Linked DNA regions of Homo sapiens: region 1 is linked to region 2. The links come from fine-mapping of genetic effects on gene expression. A gene starts in region 2. The other region holds a variant in brackets. All regions are shown on one strand. Distances are from middle to middle.

Region 1 (8,337 bases), 47 kb after region 2:
AGCAGGCCTCTGACCTCTGGCTGAGGTGTTGAGCACAGTTCAACAGGATGACCATGCAGTGCACGGTGAGGACCCCGATGGCCAGAAGGCTGACAGGACCGACCTGGAGGGGAGAGGAGAAAGGGGGAAGTGAGCCAGAAATGATCACTCCCATTCCCTGGCCCTCTCACAGTCTGCGTGCTGGGGCCTGTTGCATAATAAAACTGTCTTTGGGGTGACAGACCCAGCCTGAATGTCCTCATGCTCCCAGATGCTAGAATTTGAATGCTCTTCTTAGCATCCCTGTAGAGTGGCTGCCCAACTTCTGCTAGGATACTTCCAGTGACAGAGAGCTCATTACCTTCCCACATAGCCCATGCATTTTCTCATTTTCCTTGAGTTCTACCAGTTTAGAGTCCCTTGTGGTAAATTTATTTTGTCTGACACACCCTGGCCCTCACTTCCTCCAAGATGATTGAGGGCCAAGGTGTTCTTATGACTCAGTTCTCTTCCTCTAGTACAGAGTTTATCAACAGGTGCCCTATTGACATTTTGGGGCAGATAATTATTTGTTATCAGGAGCTGTCTTTTGCATTATAGGATGTTTAGCAGCTTTCCCGAGCCTCTACCCACTAGGTGTCAGAGACTCTTCCCCCAGATTGTGGCAACCAAAAATGTCTGTAGAGATTGTAAAGGTCTTTGGCTAGGGTAGCAGGAGCTGGTGCAAAATGATCCCAAGTTGGGGATCACTACTGTAGTGTGTCTAATTTGTCAAATTCCTTTTAAAAAGTGGGGCTGATTACTAATTATATCTTCCAGAGGTGATCAGAAGGGTATAAACGGGGACCCTCTCACATCCTTTGTTCTGAACACTTGTGTCTTTATAGATGTGACCTATCACAAAGACATAAATGAGGGATCAAGAGCACCACTAGACTCCACTGGAATGCAGGCTTCATGCAGCAGAGACTCTCGTGTCTTGTTTGCTTCTATATTCCCAGGGGCTACAAATGCACAGGGTAGATAGGTGCTCAATAAATATTTCTCAAATGAATCATGGCCAGAGGTTCTGGTGGGAGATGAAAGGTAAAGAAATCATCTAATGACTCTGAGGAAGCAAATATCAAAGAATAAAAGCATTGTCTTAAAAACAAATACCACCCTGGCAAAGATAGTTTGGCTGAAGACCATGTTTTTTTGTAGAAGCTCTAGAACCCAGAGGATTCCAAAGGGGAGAGTCCAGTCTCTGGGTTGGAACCACTGAAGATCAGAAGTCATGACAGAGGCAGCAAGGGTCTCGCCTTCTTTAGACATAGAAGCCACTTACCAGGCCTGGAGATAAGAAAAGATTCACTCCAAGGAAATGGAATTATATATTTGGTATCTATTCCATTCAGTAGATGTTAATGGAAACTTGCTGTGTGCCAGTCCCTACAGAGGCTACCGTGGGGACGTGCAAAGGGAAATCAGACAGTTCTTGCCCACAGAGCTTTCAATTAAATGAGGAAGGTGGGTCTGTTAGAAAATAAATATGTCGACCGGACGAGGTGGCTCACACCTGTCATCCCAGCACCTTGCGAGGCCGAGATGGGCCAGTCACCTGAGGTCAGGAGTTTGAGACCTGCCTGGCCAACATGATGAAAACCTCTCTACAAAGAATACAAAAATTAGCTGGGCGTGGTGGCTCACACCTGTAATCCCAGCAACTCGGGAGGCTGAGGCAGGAGAATCGCTTGAACCCGGGAGGCGGAGGTTGCAGTGAGCCAAGATTGTGCCACTGCACTCCAGCCTGGGCGACAGAGCGAGACTCTGTCTCAATAAATAATAATAAATAAATAAATATCTTATCTTCGTAAGTGCTTTAAGAATCCCAGGTAAGGTAGATATAAATGGTAGAAAAATACAAAGTGAGGATGGCATTAGTGATCATAAGAAAGTGTAAAGTTTTAGAGAGGAGGCACTTTAAAAAGACAGAAATGAGGGGGCAGGAACAGCACAGGAAAAGAGAAAGAGGTAGGCTGGTGTGGGGAGAGTGGATTGGTGGGATTGATGGAGGCGTCTATCTTCATGTCCAAGACACTTTCTCATGCGCCCTCAAGTGGTTTGGAACAGGAGTCACACACTCAAATGCCTGCAGGGATTGGGCTGTTAATGCAAATGACGAAATGAGCTGCATGTGATCCTAGGAGTGGGGAGGACTGCGGGGAGAATTGTGGCAAAGTAGAGTCAGATGAGCATGGTGAGTCTTTAAGAGTAATGGTGTGCCCCCTTCAGGGATGCTCAGGTTGGACCCAGGTTGACTCCAGGGGATTGATGCCAACAGGCACATTTTCAATTGCAGAGGGTACCCCCAAATTGCCCATTGATAACAGTGTGAAGGCCTTCAGGACCTATCACCCCCTTCTGCAAATGAGCAAACCTAGTTCCCATCCCACAGATGCCTCTTACCAACAAGCCGGCATTCTTTATGGCCAGGGGAAGCCCCAGGAGCCCTGTGCCAATGTTGCATTTCAACAAGTGGATCAAAGTTTGCATCATCCTGTGGTGGGGAGAGTAGGGAGACAGAGGGTACTGTTAGTGGAAGGGAAGCATGGCCAGAAACTCAGCCTCCTTCTGGCATCTCCAGAGCGCCTGATAGGAAGAGGGGCAAAACCTGATGAGGTGGACTTGGAGACAACTCTCAGTTCTAGGGGTCTGTCCTGGAACATCTGATCTGGGGATGGTGCTAGTTCAAGTGACTCAACAAATCTTTAATACACACTAGGCTCTAAAGGAAATAAAAATTGCTACCATTCTGGATAACACTCTAGTACTGGTTGGTTCATTAATTCATCCAGTGATTTCTTTCATGAGTTATTCTCTCAAATAACATTTATTGTGACCTAATACATGTCTATCAGTTAGATAGACAATGGAAAAATTAGTAATAGTTGCCTCAGTCTACAGTGAGACATCAGGTTATTTATTAACTCACTCACTAGAAACAAAAATCTACCATATATGGGATATTTACTGGTTTTAGTTTACTCCTTCATCCATTTGTTCAACCAATATTCATTGTGAATATGAATTGCTTGTGCGCTCTCTCTCTCTCTCTCTCTCTCTCTCTCTCTCTCTCTCTATATATATATATATATATATATATATGAAATGAGCTGCATGTGATGCTAGGGAGTGGGGAGGACTGTGGGGAGAATTGTGGCAAAGTAGAGTCAGATGAGCATGGTGATATATATATATATATATATATTATATATATATGAATTGCTATATATCGACATTATGCACTGGGTAAAATTTAATAATTTAATAGCAATTGTTACTGTGCATATAGAGTACTTATGATGGTCCCAGCAGGGTGCTAGGGCCTAGGGTTCTAAATATTCTTCACACCTGTGCTGGCAGCTCCTGCCCAGGCAGCTCCAATCCTGATGTGGATTGGGTGGGAAAGGTGGGAACAGGATCATGAGAACAGAATCAAAAAGGAACTTAAATAAAAAGTACATGCGTAAGCATTGAACCCAGAGATGGGAGCACTTAATTCTGAGTTCCAGCTCTGCCGCTAACCTACTGTGTTTGGTTACTACTTTGGGAAGCCATTAGCTGCTTTGATCCTGTTTCACTGCCAAAAAAGGGAGAAAATTCTAGTTTTGCCTATGTCCCAGGGAAGCTGTAAGACTCAAAAGAGGTAACAACATGATGAATCATGGAATCATGAAGTGCTTCACAGATGTGAGCATCATCATCGTCATATCATTGTCTCATCATCATCATCATCCTCACTGCCACCTTTGGTTTGGCCTTCATGGTGCTCATTTGTTAGAAAGCGCATCCTTCAAGAGGAAGAAGAATTGGGATGATAGGAAAAAGGCAAGCATGGGCTGGTTTAAGCAAGTAGAAGTGCCCCCTCCACCCAAGAACAAAAGGGTACCTTGAAGATGCCATTGGGAGATACAGACGAAGTCTCAGGCTAAGACAGAGAATGCCCTCTTGCCACACTTAAATTGTCTGCAGGTGGCCAGGAGAGCCAAAACCAACTGCCCAAGTGAGTCCAGCAGAGACAGTGCTCACATCTCTTTGTCTTATCCATTAGAGAGTCATGGCAAGGGGCTAGGAAGAAGCTGTAACCAACCAGGTCTTTGCATTTCAATGCTGACCTGAGAGAGGGTTGGGTTGAGAGAACAGATGAACTGTTGGGGACTTCTGTGACTTCAGTCTATTGAGTGAAGTCTATTGACCTAACTTCTGTTAGGGCAGTCTATTCACCTAAGGATGGGGGGGTGGGCACCCATTGTCCCTTTACTTCCAAGAGATAACCTTTATTTCTTGATAACTGTAATTTGTCAATTCTTAAGTAGTAATTTCTCCAAAAGATGTGGTCCCATTTCCCACCCTCTGCTCTTTTTTCCTTTGTCTCTCACTTCTTTCCCATGACAGCATCGATGTCTTGCCCCTATTTGAATCAGATATTGTGGGAAAGGTGAGACAAGTTTTCGGAGGAACCACTGTGCCTTAGCTGACAGCATTTACCCATCTGGACCTTGAAGCATAAATAGATGTTGCAAGCTCCCCTGAGA[T/C]TTAAAAAATTGGGTTTATATTTTTTCTCGAAAACTATACAATTGCTATTATAAAAGGAAATTCCAAAATCCCACCAATGGAAAATAACCACACATTATAATTAGCCCTCCTCTGGGCATCTTTATTTGCTCTAAATGCACCGAATTTTACATAAAGAGAACCGCTATGCATGCTGGATCCTCAACTAATTTTCTGTATGAATAAATGTGCTACACACTTTCCATGTCCATACATTTCCTCCATCACTTGTAATGACTGTATCATATTCTACTGTATGTTTGTTTCATGTGTTAACCTTTCTCTTAATGTTTCCAAGTTTTCAATATTATTGAAACTGCCTTTGCAAAATTATAACTGAGGAAATTAAGACAGCGAAAGAAATCAGACCTAACCAACTCCATCTTGCTTCTAACCTTTAAGATGTCCTTGTTTATTCCTGGACATAGGCTGAGCTAACTTTGGGAAGGAATTCATTTCATGGTTTGACTATTGGTATCACCCCTTTCCCAAAAAGACCCCCTTTTTGCCTGGGGACCATTCTGCCTTTGCAGGACTAACAAATTAGCTATAAGATTGGAAATTACAGTTTAGGGGTCATGCAGCCTCTGGCTCCAGGAGTCTAAACCTCCCCACATTGTTCCTGGGGATAACATCACATTGTAAAACCTAAGATCAGTGCTTGAGTTATTTTGCAGACCCTGCACTCTGATGGACCATCTGAAACCACCCAGACCGGTCATCTGGCTCAACCAGTTCTGCCATCCCTCCCAAGAACAGAAAACAGCAAGAAAAACTCACTTCGAGCCCCTGTGATTCCATCTCCAACCTGATCAATCAGCACTCCCCACTTCCCAAGCTCCTACCCACCAAATTATCTTTAAAAACTCTAATTCCCGAATGCTCAGGGAGACCGATTTGAGTGATAATAAAACTCCGGTCTCGAGCTTGCAGTGAGCTGAGATCGCGCCACTGCACTCCAGCCTGGGCGATAGAGCAAGACTCCGTCTAAAAAAAAAAAAAAAAAACCTCCAGTCTCTTGCACAGCAGATTCTGCATGAATTACTCTTTCTCCATTGCAATTCCCCTGTCTTGATAAATCGTCTCTGTCTAGGCAGTGGGCAAGGTGAACCCATTGAGTGGTTACATTATAACAAGTGCTTTGATAAAAATTATGCACTCTTGTGCTATTATTTCATCAGAAAAAATTCCTAGAGGGGTATTATTAATCAAAGGGTATATTTATTTATATTTCATTATACTTTAAAGAACTAGATTGTAATACTTACAGTACAAAATTCAAAAGATAAAACGCAATAATCCAAATCCTTATGAAACAAATATAAATCTCTTTTCTCTCAGCCTCCAAATTCTCTTCCCCAGAGGCAACCACTGCTGTCAGTTTTGTGTGTGTGCACGAGTTGTATACTTTCAGACAGCATTTGCCAAATAAATATTTGTATGTTTTATACAAATGACATTTTACGATTTGACCTGTAACATTGCCATCTAGAAAGATACCAATTTAATTCTTCCCAAAAGATGAGAGAGGGCATTTCCTGATATCCTTATCAACACTGGGGATTGTCATCGATAATCTCTTTGTGCCCACAGTTGTTACCGATCTGATGATTACCAGATAGCAGTGTGATTGACAGTAAGTCCTAGAAGAAGAGTTCTGTTGAAATCATGTCCTTTGCAGGGACATGGATGGAGCCGGAAGCCAGTATACTCCGCAAACTAACAAAGGAACAGAAAACCAAACACTGCATGTTCTCACTTGTAAGTGGGAGCTGAACAATGAGAACACATGGACACAGGGAGGAGAACAAGACAAACACTGGGGCTGGTTGGGGGTGGGGGGCAGGGGATGGGAGAGCATCAGGATAAATAGCTAAGGTATATGGGGCTTAATACCTAGGTGATGGGTTGATAGGTACAGCAAAACCACTATGACACACGTTTACCTATGTAACAAACCCGCATGTCCTGTACATGTATCCTGGAACTTAAAATTAAATTAAATTTAATTTAATTAAAAAAAAAGAGAGAAGAGTTCCATGTGTCTGAGTTTGGGGCAGTAAAGGTGGAGACATGGGGTTAGCACCTTTTGTTTTCTGGATGGATGGCATGGGGGGTTGGGGAGAAGAGGCAGAGAGAATAATGGCAGATGTGTGAGGAGAAGAAGGCAGCCAGAGACTGTGGAAGAAAGAAAGGGAGGAAGGAAAGGGCAGACAGCCTGAGATAGGAAACTGTTCCTGGAGACAAGCTGCTCATGTTGAGGGTGGCTGCTCTAGCTGGGTTCTTCGTAAAAACTGGGAAACAGGGCTAGTAGCCAGAGCCACAGGGATTGACCTCCTTAGATTCTGAAGGTTTCATCTTTTATCCACGCATATCGTGTTAATGGAATAAGCGTGTTAAGGAGATAGATGAAGGAAGACATAGTCCAGAGTTGCAAAAACAGCAGTGCTTGACCTCAGGCCTGGAAGGGCGGTGCGGCCACTTACGATAGTCCAGCTTCTCCAGCAGGATGGACATTCTCTGAAGTAATGCTACTGCTGCTCTCTGAGGGTGACTGAGGTCCGTTGTCCAAGGAGTTCAGCTCACTGTTGTAGTCCCTTCCAAGCAATGACATCTTCAACACGGTGGGTAGGTGGCAGAGGCTCAGGGTTAAGGCTCTGAATGAGCCTCTGATGGGTCTTTCTCCAGAGAAACCATGGCTGCTGACCTGAGATGCTGGCTCCTAACCCCAAGGATGCGTGCTGCTGGCTGAAGCCTGAAGTGCATGAATCAGGGAAGCGGTGGTGGCAGGAGAGGCTGATGTTGATGATGCCTCACCTGGCTCTTGGGGGACTTATGAAAGACCCATCTCAGTCAGGATGGTCCTCAGTTTCACTCGCAATTGCTTGCCCAACCAGGACTTGCCTGGGCTTTTGGCCTCTCCTAGTTTAGCCCTTGCTGCTGTAGGGCAAAGTGAACAGTGTGACTGGGAGGAAGAAGACACCATTGGATTGGAGGTCCTGGTGCCTGGACGTGGGGCCAGGCTCAGTGCTTGTCTGTCTTTGGCAAGGAAAAAACCAGAGCTACCTCACAATGGAGGCTGCCCAGCCAATGAGCTGCAGCAGAATCCTGGGATGCAGATGTGGCCCAACAGAACATAATCCAGCTACCATGTTCCCTGTTTGGGGTGAAGAGTGGCTTGTAAGGCCCAGTTCAAATGCCACCTGCTCAGAATTTCTATACAGGAGGCGTATGGCCTGCCAGTGATTTGGAAGGGAGTGCAGGTCATGTTTAAAAAAAATCATTTGTTCAGAAAATATTTATTGAGCATCTAATATATGCTAGAAACTGTTCTCCATGCTGGGAATATATTAGGGTAGAAAACTTACTACAATCTCTGTTCTCATGGAATTTACAATCTGGAGGGGCTGGGGGAGACAGACAATAAACGAAACAAATATATCAAGTATCTGTTAGTAAAAAGCGGTATAGAGAAAATCCAGGCAAGGGTAATGGAGAGTTTCAGCTAGGGGGAGGGTCGCAATTTTAGATTGGGTGATCAGAGAGGGCCTCACCTAGAAAGTGACATTTGGGCAAAGGGCTGAACAAGATGAGGGAACACAACTCATGTAGGTCTTGGGTAAGAAACTCCTAGCAGAGGGGCAAGAAGTGCAAAGGTCCTGAGGCAGGAGAGTGCCTGGGGTGTTTTAGGAATGGCAATGAGGTCATATGGCTATCTGGGAGCACACAGAGGAGAATGGATTCGCCTGGTTTGTGCCTATT
Region 2 (8,337 bases):
CCTACCATAAAACATGGCTGGATTTTCCTCCTTGCCTTATGTAACCTCCCTTACTTTATCATAATTTACTGCCTTAGTTAATCCCTTTCTCATTCCTCCAAGGACAGCCTCAAGAAATTTAGCCAGGTGGTTCATTCCCATGGGGGCGTTATAGTTTCAATTAGGATCAGTAGTGGGAACTGTGTCTGGGCCTCGGTAATTGCCCTGAGGGTTTCAGGTGGATAATTCATCCACTTCCCTGCTGGCAGCCTCAAAGATTTGTTCCTTTCCTGAGGGAGTGCCAACAGGTTGCTAGAATGAATTGACCATCTCTCCATGAGAGATCAAAGGCTAAGGTCAAAGTGTGGAACTCATCTGCAAATTTCCTAGGATTCTCAGAACAGCTTCCTAGCTTTTCCTTACATTGTTGAATATTAGTTATAGAGAAGGGGGCCTGCACTAGGACTGGCCCCTCAACTCCTGCTACTTCCCTAAGGTGTAGCAGGGCTGGAAGAAGAGCTGAATACAGGGTTCCCCTCCGAATGTGAGGGGGACTTAGTAGGGTCTCTGGTGTTTGCTCCTGGGGTTGAGCCTCAGGAGCACTTGCAAGGGGCTATATGGGGGTGGTCACTGTTCACTCTGAGAGACAGGTGGCCCTTGTAAGAGGGGGTCATCTATAATATGTAGTTCTCCCTTAGAACTTTCCTTTGTGGGGTGGGTTCTGGGAGTTTCACAGATTGTTAGGTTTTGGTAAAGCGTCATGGAAGTCTGCATGTACAAGATTTCTGACCATGTGCTCTGTCTCTTGCAAAATAGGTCTAATTGCAGGATGATGTCATAATTAAGGCTACCATTGACTACCCATTTTTTCCAGGCTGGGCAGCTCATAATGGAGCCAGACAGTACTGCAGAAAAAAATTATATGTTTTCTCTTTAGATTGTCAGGGTCAAATTGATCGCAATGGTGGAGGACGTAGCCGAGCGGGGAATCAGGTGGAATAGGTAGAGAGTTGCCCACAGTGGTCTGGAAAAGAGAAGAGGACTGACCAGGTGACCCAAATTTTACCTGAGGCATCCTCCTGGAAAAATTCTGGGCCCAGACTGGGGTCCCTGGGAGCATCTCCCCATTAGGGCCCTGACTTAGCCTGTTAGATGTCTCTGACCTTAGATAGGTGCAGGCATTGCTTTGGAATGGTTCCCTCCACCACTGAAGACCTACTGTGAACTTTCCTTAAGGTTTTCCCATGCCACTTAAAGCAACTTTTTTTTTTTTTTGAGACAGGGTCTTGCTCTGTTGCCCAGGCTGGAGTGCAGTGGCATGATCTCGGCTCGCTGCAAGCTCTGCCTCCCAGGTTCATGCCATTCTCCTGCCTCAGCCTCCGAGTAGCTGGGACTACAGGCGCCGACCACCATGCCTGGCTAATTTTTTGTATATTTAGTAGAGATGGCGTTTCACCGTGTTAGCCAGGATGGTCTCAATCTCCTGACCTCGTGATCCGCCTGCCTCGGCCTCCCAAAGTGCTGGGATTACAGGCGTGAGCCACCGCAGCCGGCAAAGCAACCCTTTAACTCTCTCAATTTAGGCAATAATAGATTACCTTTCATGAATTCCCCCCACTCCCCATGCATCACACAGACCACCTACGACATGCCTGGACCCTCTGACTCATATAACCTTTTTGCATAGCTAGGTGGGTTTTCTGTCCTTAGCCAGTCAAGTGGGGGAAGGGAAGGGAAGAATTTAGCATAAGGTTTAAGTCACCTGAAACGTGTGAGTTTGCCCTGGATGAGCTGCTGCTGCTGCCAACCCAGACACAGGTAGGGATCTATAATCAGAAAGGACAGAAAAGAGTCTTTCACCCTTCTGGGCAGGGCAGCCGTCCCTGTTCACTCTTTGGCCTTCAGAGAACACTGGAGAGTGGCCCCGGCCAGTTTCCCTCAATTACCAAGGAGCTACTAGGAAACGACCAGTGAAAGACTGAAAAAGCAAAAAACAAACAAACAAAAAACAACAAAAAACAAAAAGGAATAGAACTCAGAAAAAAGAGAGAAAAAAAGAAAAGGAATAGGACTCAGAAAAATGAAAACAAGGAAAAAGACTTCTCAGTGACCAGGCAGTGGCGGTCAAGTGCTTCGACACGGAAGCCTTTCAGTCTCACCAGAGAGTGGCCCTGGCCAGAAACTTACAATTTCCTCTGTGCTTAGGCGCTGTCCACCGAGTTGGGTTCCGAGTTGGAAAGGAAAAGAGAGAGGGAGAGAAAAATTCCCCTGCATTAAAAGGGAAATGGAGAAAAATAAATCCCAAGCTTTGGGCCTACCTTCTCTCCTGGCTGGCTTGCCAAAATATGTTACCAGTAGAGGGTTTTGACTGAAAGTTGTCTAGGTTCTTGGCGTTTTTGAACAAAGAATTGGAGAAAACACACAGAAAAGCAAGGGAAAAATGGAGCAATGAAAGAACAAAAGCAAGGGTTTATTAAAAATGAAAGTACACTCAACAGTGTGGGAGCGGGCCAAGCAGCAGCTCAAGGGCCCAGATACAGAATCTTCTTGGGTCCAAATACCCCCTAGAGGTTTCCCATTGGCCACTTGGTGCTCACCTCATGTAAATGAAGTGGTGGCCCGCAATCAGTCTGACTGGTTAATCAGAGGCCGAAGTGAAGTTACAAAGGTCATGCTCCTGTGCAAACATCTGATTGGTTGTGGAAAGCAACCAATCAGGCTGAAGTGAAGTTACAAAGTTGCACTTCTATGCAATTTTAACATATAAACTGAAATGTAGCATAGAAATCGAAATGTACTTTCAATTTCCCATCTGCTGCACAGAAAAGGTGGGGGGTTGTAAAGAGAGTAGCCTCTGGTCCTCTTGTTACTTAGGTGTGGAAAGTTAGGGTTTTCCTTTCGATTTAGTTCTAGGAAGTCAGCGTGAAATGGCCTTAGGTTCCCTGCCTGCAGACTCTATTCTCCTACCTCAGTTGGGCTAGGTGAAAGGGAAGAGTTGATCAGAATGGGAGGATCATTATGTAAAGTATGGAGCTTAGTTAATAATAGTGTACCAATGTCATGCCCTCAGATTTAAAAAAAATTTTTTAATTTTTTATTCTTTTGCCACCTCCTTGTCGCTGGCAGTGCCCCCCAGTTATGCACAAGCACAAGCTCTGGGTCTGCAGTCTGAACCCCCGGCCAGGCCACGGGTGTCTTATCAACAATAGAGGAAACGAACAGAACTTTGTAGTATTTTTGCAACTTTTCTGTAAACCAAAATAAAAAGTTTACTTTAAAAAAGATGATCAGGTGAGTTTTAAATTCTACACATGCATTCATGTACTCAACAGATTGTCTATTATGCATCAGGCACTGGGTATAAATGAGTGCCTGCATCATGATGCCACCCCTTGTGTAGTTTACAATCCTGTGGTAAATTGGCGGTATTGGTAACAACATCCCTGTTTTTTCTAAAAGCAAATCTCCAACTAGTATATTAACCTGACAAAATCTTGGCTGATGGGGTGTCTAAAAAGAAGTCTTGCTCTATTCCTTCCTAGCTGTGCGACCTTGGCAGAGCTAACCTCACTGTGTATCAGTTTCCTCAGTGCTAAAATTGGGGAAGAAAAAAAAAAAGCATTCCCTTGTGCGTCCTTAGCATGCTTTCAAGCAGTTACTAAATGTTAGTTTTTATAACGGTTATAATTATTAAAAAGATACGGATTCGTGAAGTCAAGAGATCAAGACCGTCCTGGACAACACGGTGAAACCCCGTTTCTACTAAAAACACAAAAATTAGCTGGGCGTGTGGCGCGTGCCTGTAGTCCCAGCTAGTCGAGAGGCTGAGGCGGAAGAATCGCTTGAACCTGGGAGGCAGAGGTTGCAGTGAGCCGAGATCGCGCCACTGCACTCCAGCTCGGGCGACAGAGCGAGAGTCCGTCTCAAAGCAAAAAAAAAAAAAAAAAAGACACACATATGGGGAAGCGTAACATGGCAGAGAGTCTGACATTTTTGTCCGGAAGGACTTGGGGATGAAAACACTGAATCCGCGGTTTCCCAAAGGTCCTTCCAAAGGTGACGGCCCCGGCACGAGTTCACAAACCACAGCTCCGCCCCATCCCCTGCCCGGCCCCGCCCTTCCCAGGAGCTCTGCTCCGCCCCGCCCCCGACTCCGCTCGGCCCCTCCTCGCGCCACGCCCCCGCCCCTCCCGCGCGCGCAGCTCCGCCCCGCCCTCGTGATCCCGCCCCAACCTCGTGCTAAGCTCCCTTCCGTTCCAGCCGCCTTCAGCCCCGCCGCGCTCAGTTCCGCCCCTTTCTCTTCCAACTCCGCCTACGCCCCAGAGAGGGAAGGCCTTGACACCTACGCTAGAGAGACAGGCTCCAATGAAAAGAGCGAGGGGGCGGAGCCGGGAGGAATCGGTCCAATTCTCGGCCGGGAAGTCTCTGGCCGGGACGGGGCAGGGCGAACCTGCCAGTGACTGGACTCAGCTTCTTTGCGTAACCAATACTGGAAGGCATTTAAAGGCACCTCTGCCGCCACAGACCTTGCAGTTAACTCCGCCCTGACCCACCCTTCCCGATGCAGTCCCTGATGCAGGCTCCCCTCCTGATCGCCCTGGGCTTGCTTCTCGCGGCCCCTGCGCAAGCCCACCTGAAAAAGGTGAGTGCACCCTCTTTTAAGAGTCTGTTTGCAGCCTCCTGGCCCAGCTACGGGTGTGCGGGTCTGGCTGAGATATGGGGGTGGCCACTCCGTTCTCTAGAATTGGTTCTCTGCACTAGAGCCTTCCAAAGTAACTAATTATGGGATTCTGGTCTGTACAATGAGGGTGGCCTCTAAAGACTTGTTCTGCTCCAGGCCCTTTTTGGAGAGATTAATCTCACGTCTGCACTCTCCTGCCCTCCCTCCAAGCGCCGGAGTGAAAATGCAGACAGCCTTAAAACTAAGGCATTGCCCCCAGAGATTCAGTCCTGTTAACCCTGCACCTTACTCCTGACCCCCACTCCTTATGTCCCCCATGATAAGGCCTGCTGCCTCATCTCTTCCCCTGCTCGAATGCCCTGAGGTCTTCCTGAGAGTTGGGAGGGTTTGAGAGCTTTTCCAGGCCAGAGGATCCAGATTTGCCCATCTGGTGACAAATACCCAGGCCTGTGACCCCGCTGCCCTTGGTTATGAGCCACTGAGACAACAGTCCCCGTACCCTCCAAGCTTCCTCCTTCACTTCTCATTGACACCGCTTCTTCCTTCACTTCTCATTCACACCGTGCTGCAGATCCCTGGGAAAGGGAAGTTCTGTAATCCCTTCACCTGAAAAAGCCTCGTTCCTGGCTTATTGCAGCTAGCCCAATGTCTTTCAGATTCAATCTATGTTGTTGCAAATGACAAGATGTTCCCCCTTTTAAAGGCTGAATAGTATTCTGTTGTGTATATATGCCACATTTTCTTTATGCATTCAATTTGATGGATAATTTCTTCATCAAGTGTCTGTTGATGGATAATTTCTTTATCCATCAAGTGTCTGTTGATGGACACTTAGGTTATTTCCATATCTTAGCTATTGTGAGTAATGCTGCAATGAATATGGGAGTGCAGATAGCCCTTCGAAATGTTGATTTCAGTTCCTTTGGATATATACCCAGAAGTGGGATAATGGCTCATATGGTAGTTCTGTTTTATTATCTCATTTATATGCGGATTCTAACCAAGTTGAACTTACAGAAGTTGAGAGTAGAGGTGGGGTCTCACTCTGTCACCCAGGCTGGAGTGCAGTGGGGCGATTGTAGCTCACTGCAGCCTTAAACTCCTGGGCTCAAGCAGTCCTCCCACCTCAGTCTCCTGAGTAGCTGGGACTGCAGGTGTGGGCCACCAAGTTCTGCTAAGGAATAGGCTTTGAGATTTATTGCACACCAGGGTGACTATCGTCAGTAATGTATTATATACAGAAGCTCCTTAACTTTCCATGAGGTTATGTTCTGATAAACCCATCATAAGTTGAAAATGCATTTAATACAGCTAACCTGAGAATCATAGCCTAGCCTACCTTAAACATGCCTAGCCTACCTTAAACATGCCCAGAACATTTACATTAGCCTACAGTTGGGCAATATCATCTAACACAAAGCCTATTTCATAATAAAGTGTTGAATGTCTCATGTGATTTACTGAAGACTGTACTGAAAGTGAAAAACAGTATGGATACTAAAAGTACAGTTTCTACTGAATATTTATCACTTAGGCACGATTGTAAAGTTGAAAAATGGTATGTCAAACCATTGTAAGTCAGGAACTGTGTGCATTTCAAAACAACTAAGAGAATACATTTCACATTGCAGTGTACCCCATAAATGTATACAACTATGGTTTGTCAATTTAAAAAAAACCCAAGACCAGGTGCGGTGGTGCACACCTGTAATCCCAGGACTTTGGGAGGCTGAGGTGGACAGATTGCTTGAGCTCAGGAGTTCAAGACCAGCCTGGGCAACATGGTGAAGCCCCATCTCTGCAAAAATACAAAAATTAGCTGGGCGTGGTGGTGTGCGCCAGTATTCCCAGCTACTTGAGAGGCTAAGGTGAGAGGCCCAGCTACGCCTGAACCTGGGAGGTCATGGCTACAGCTGAGATTGCACCACTGCATTCCAGCCTGGGTGACAGAGTGAGACCCTATCTCACAAAAAAACCCCAAAAACAAAAACCCGATTCCATTGCCTCTTGGCTGCTAGCTGTGGTCAAGACATCACACATTTCTGGTAGCAAAGGGATAGGTCCAACCCTGATCCCCTCCCTTCTACCATCTTGGAAGTGTTTGAGAGTGAGGAACAGTGCTGTGTAGGGGAAAGCGGGTGATACTGAAAGCAGGGAGGCTTGGCTTCTGATCATTCCCCTGTCTCAATCCATGGATTTCCTGAGTCTTGTTCTCCTCATCTGTAAGATGGGTGTGATGGTGCCAACGTGCATCTCGGGGAGTTGTCGGTGAAGGGAAATGCATTCATTGATGGAAAATTTCTAAAATCAGAAACAAATAAAGCCATATAAATCTGTGGGCTTGGCCTCACTCTGCCCCCGAGGCAGAAAGTCTGTTTTGCTTGTTGAATGAAGGAACGTGGACCTTTTGACTTCATTTGCCTGGAGAATTTATACCTTGTTCCTGAATGTTGGCTGAGAATGCTTCTCTTGGCTCCAGGGCTGGCCGCTATGAGGTGGAGTCTGGCTAGAGGCTGCTAGCTCACCCTACAAACTTGTTGTATATGCTGTGGGTATGGATGCCATCTCAGACTAGGTCTTAGATTGGCAGTTTTGAAGAGGCCCTGAGACATTATAAAGGTCACTCAAAATCACACAGCACCTACATCTTCTTGGGGCTCATGTGATTCAGAGCCCTGACCTTGAGTCCCTGGGCCAGATAAAGATGGGGGTGGGGGGTGACAGTGAATGAACATCAGGAAACCTGAATTTCAGTTCCTCTTCTAGCATAACTGATCTTGTGACTACAGGCTGTGATGGGTGTTAGATAACAGGGGAGGATATCTAGCCCCATGCTAGTCATATAGTAGGTGCTTAATAGACTCTATAGTGCTGTATAGTGGCTGTCATTTGTTGTACCCATACTATGTGCTATGTACTGGGCTATGTGCTTTTTTCCTAAAAAAAAATTTGGAATAATTTTAGGTTTATAGAATAGTTGCAGCAGGGCGTGGTGGTTCACCCCTATAATCCAGCACTGTGGGAGACCAAGGCAGGCAAATCACTTGAGGCCAGGAGTTTGAGACCAACCTGAACCTGGCCAACATGGTGAAACCCTGTCCATACTAAAAATACAAAAATTAGCCAGGCATGGTGGCGTACACCTGTAGTCCCAGCTACTTGGGAGGCTGAGGCAGGAGAAATCACTTGAACCTAGGAGGCAGAGGTTGCAGTGAGCTGAGATCACGCTGCTGCACTCCAGCCTGGATGACAGAGTGAGACTCTGTCTCAAGAAAAAAAAAAAAAAAAGAAAAGTTACAGAGATAATATAGAGTTTCTATATACTCCTGACTCAGTTTTCCCTGTTAGCATCTTATATGTACATATCTCCAACACTAAGAAACCAACATTAGTACATTACTGTTAACTGAATTCTAGACTTTATTTGGATTTCACCAGTTTTCCCATTAATGCCCTCTTTCTGAGCCAGGATCCAATCCAGGGTACTGCACTGCCATTGTTGTCATGACACATATAATTGTAGTCCCCCCTCTCCTCCAGCCTATGACAGCTTCTTAGTCTTTCCTTGTTTATTCATGAGCTTGGCAGTCTTGAGGAGTTGTGCCCTGTGCTTTCTGTATACAAACATCTTACCCTCACAATAGCCCTGTGAGAAGATATCATTATGTCCACATAAT

What was found. PIP is the estimated chance that this variant, and not a neighbour inherited with it, causes the effect. A credible set is the group of variants that fine-mapping cannot tell apart.
Region 1: its variant is the best candidate, but not a certain one, in a credible set for the expression of GM2A in unexposed skin (GTEx, PIP 0.62).

What each region holds. Positions count from the first base shown.
Region 1 is chr5:151,296,166-151,304,502 of GRCh38, forward strand. SLC36A3 (solute carrier family 36 member 3) reads right to left here and starts at 7,601. Exons shown (of 10, transcript NM_181774.4): 1 at 7,062-7,601; 2 at 2,428-2,518; 3 at 15-103. The coding sequence starts at 7,189. The variant T/C (reference allele first, on the strand shown) is at 4,557.
Region 2 is chr5:151,248,677-151,257,013 of GRCh38, forward strand. It overlaps GM2A (ganglioside GM2 activator), which reads left to right and starts at 4,509. Exons shown (of 4, transcript NM_000405.5): 1 at 4,509-4,621. The coding sequence starts at 4,541. It overlaps LOC124901115 (a long non-coding RNA gene), which reads right to left and starts at 2,509. Exons shown (of 3, transcript XR_007059003.1): 1 at 2,298-2,509; 2 at 1,742-1,805; 3 at 1-1,003. RefSeq lists a silencer at 4,120-4,469 and an enhancer at 7,574-7,713.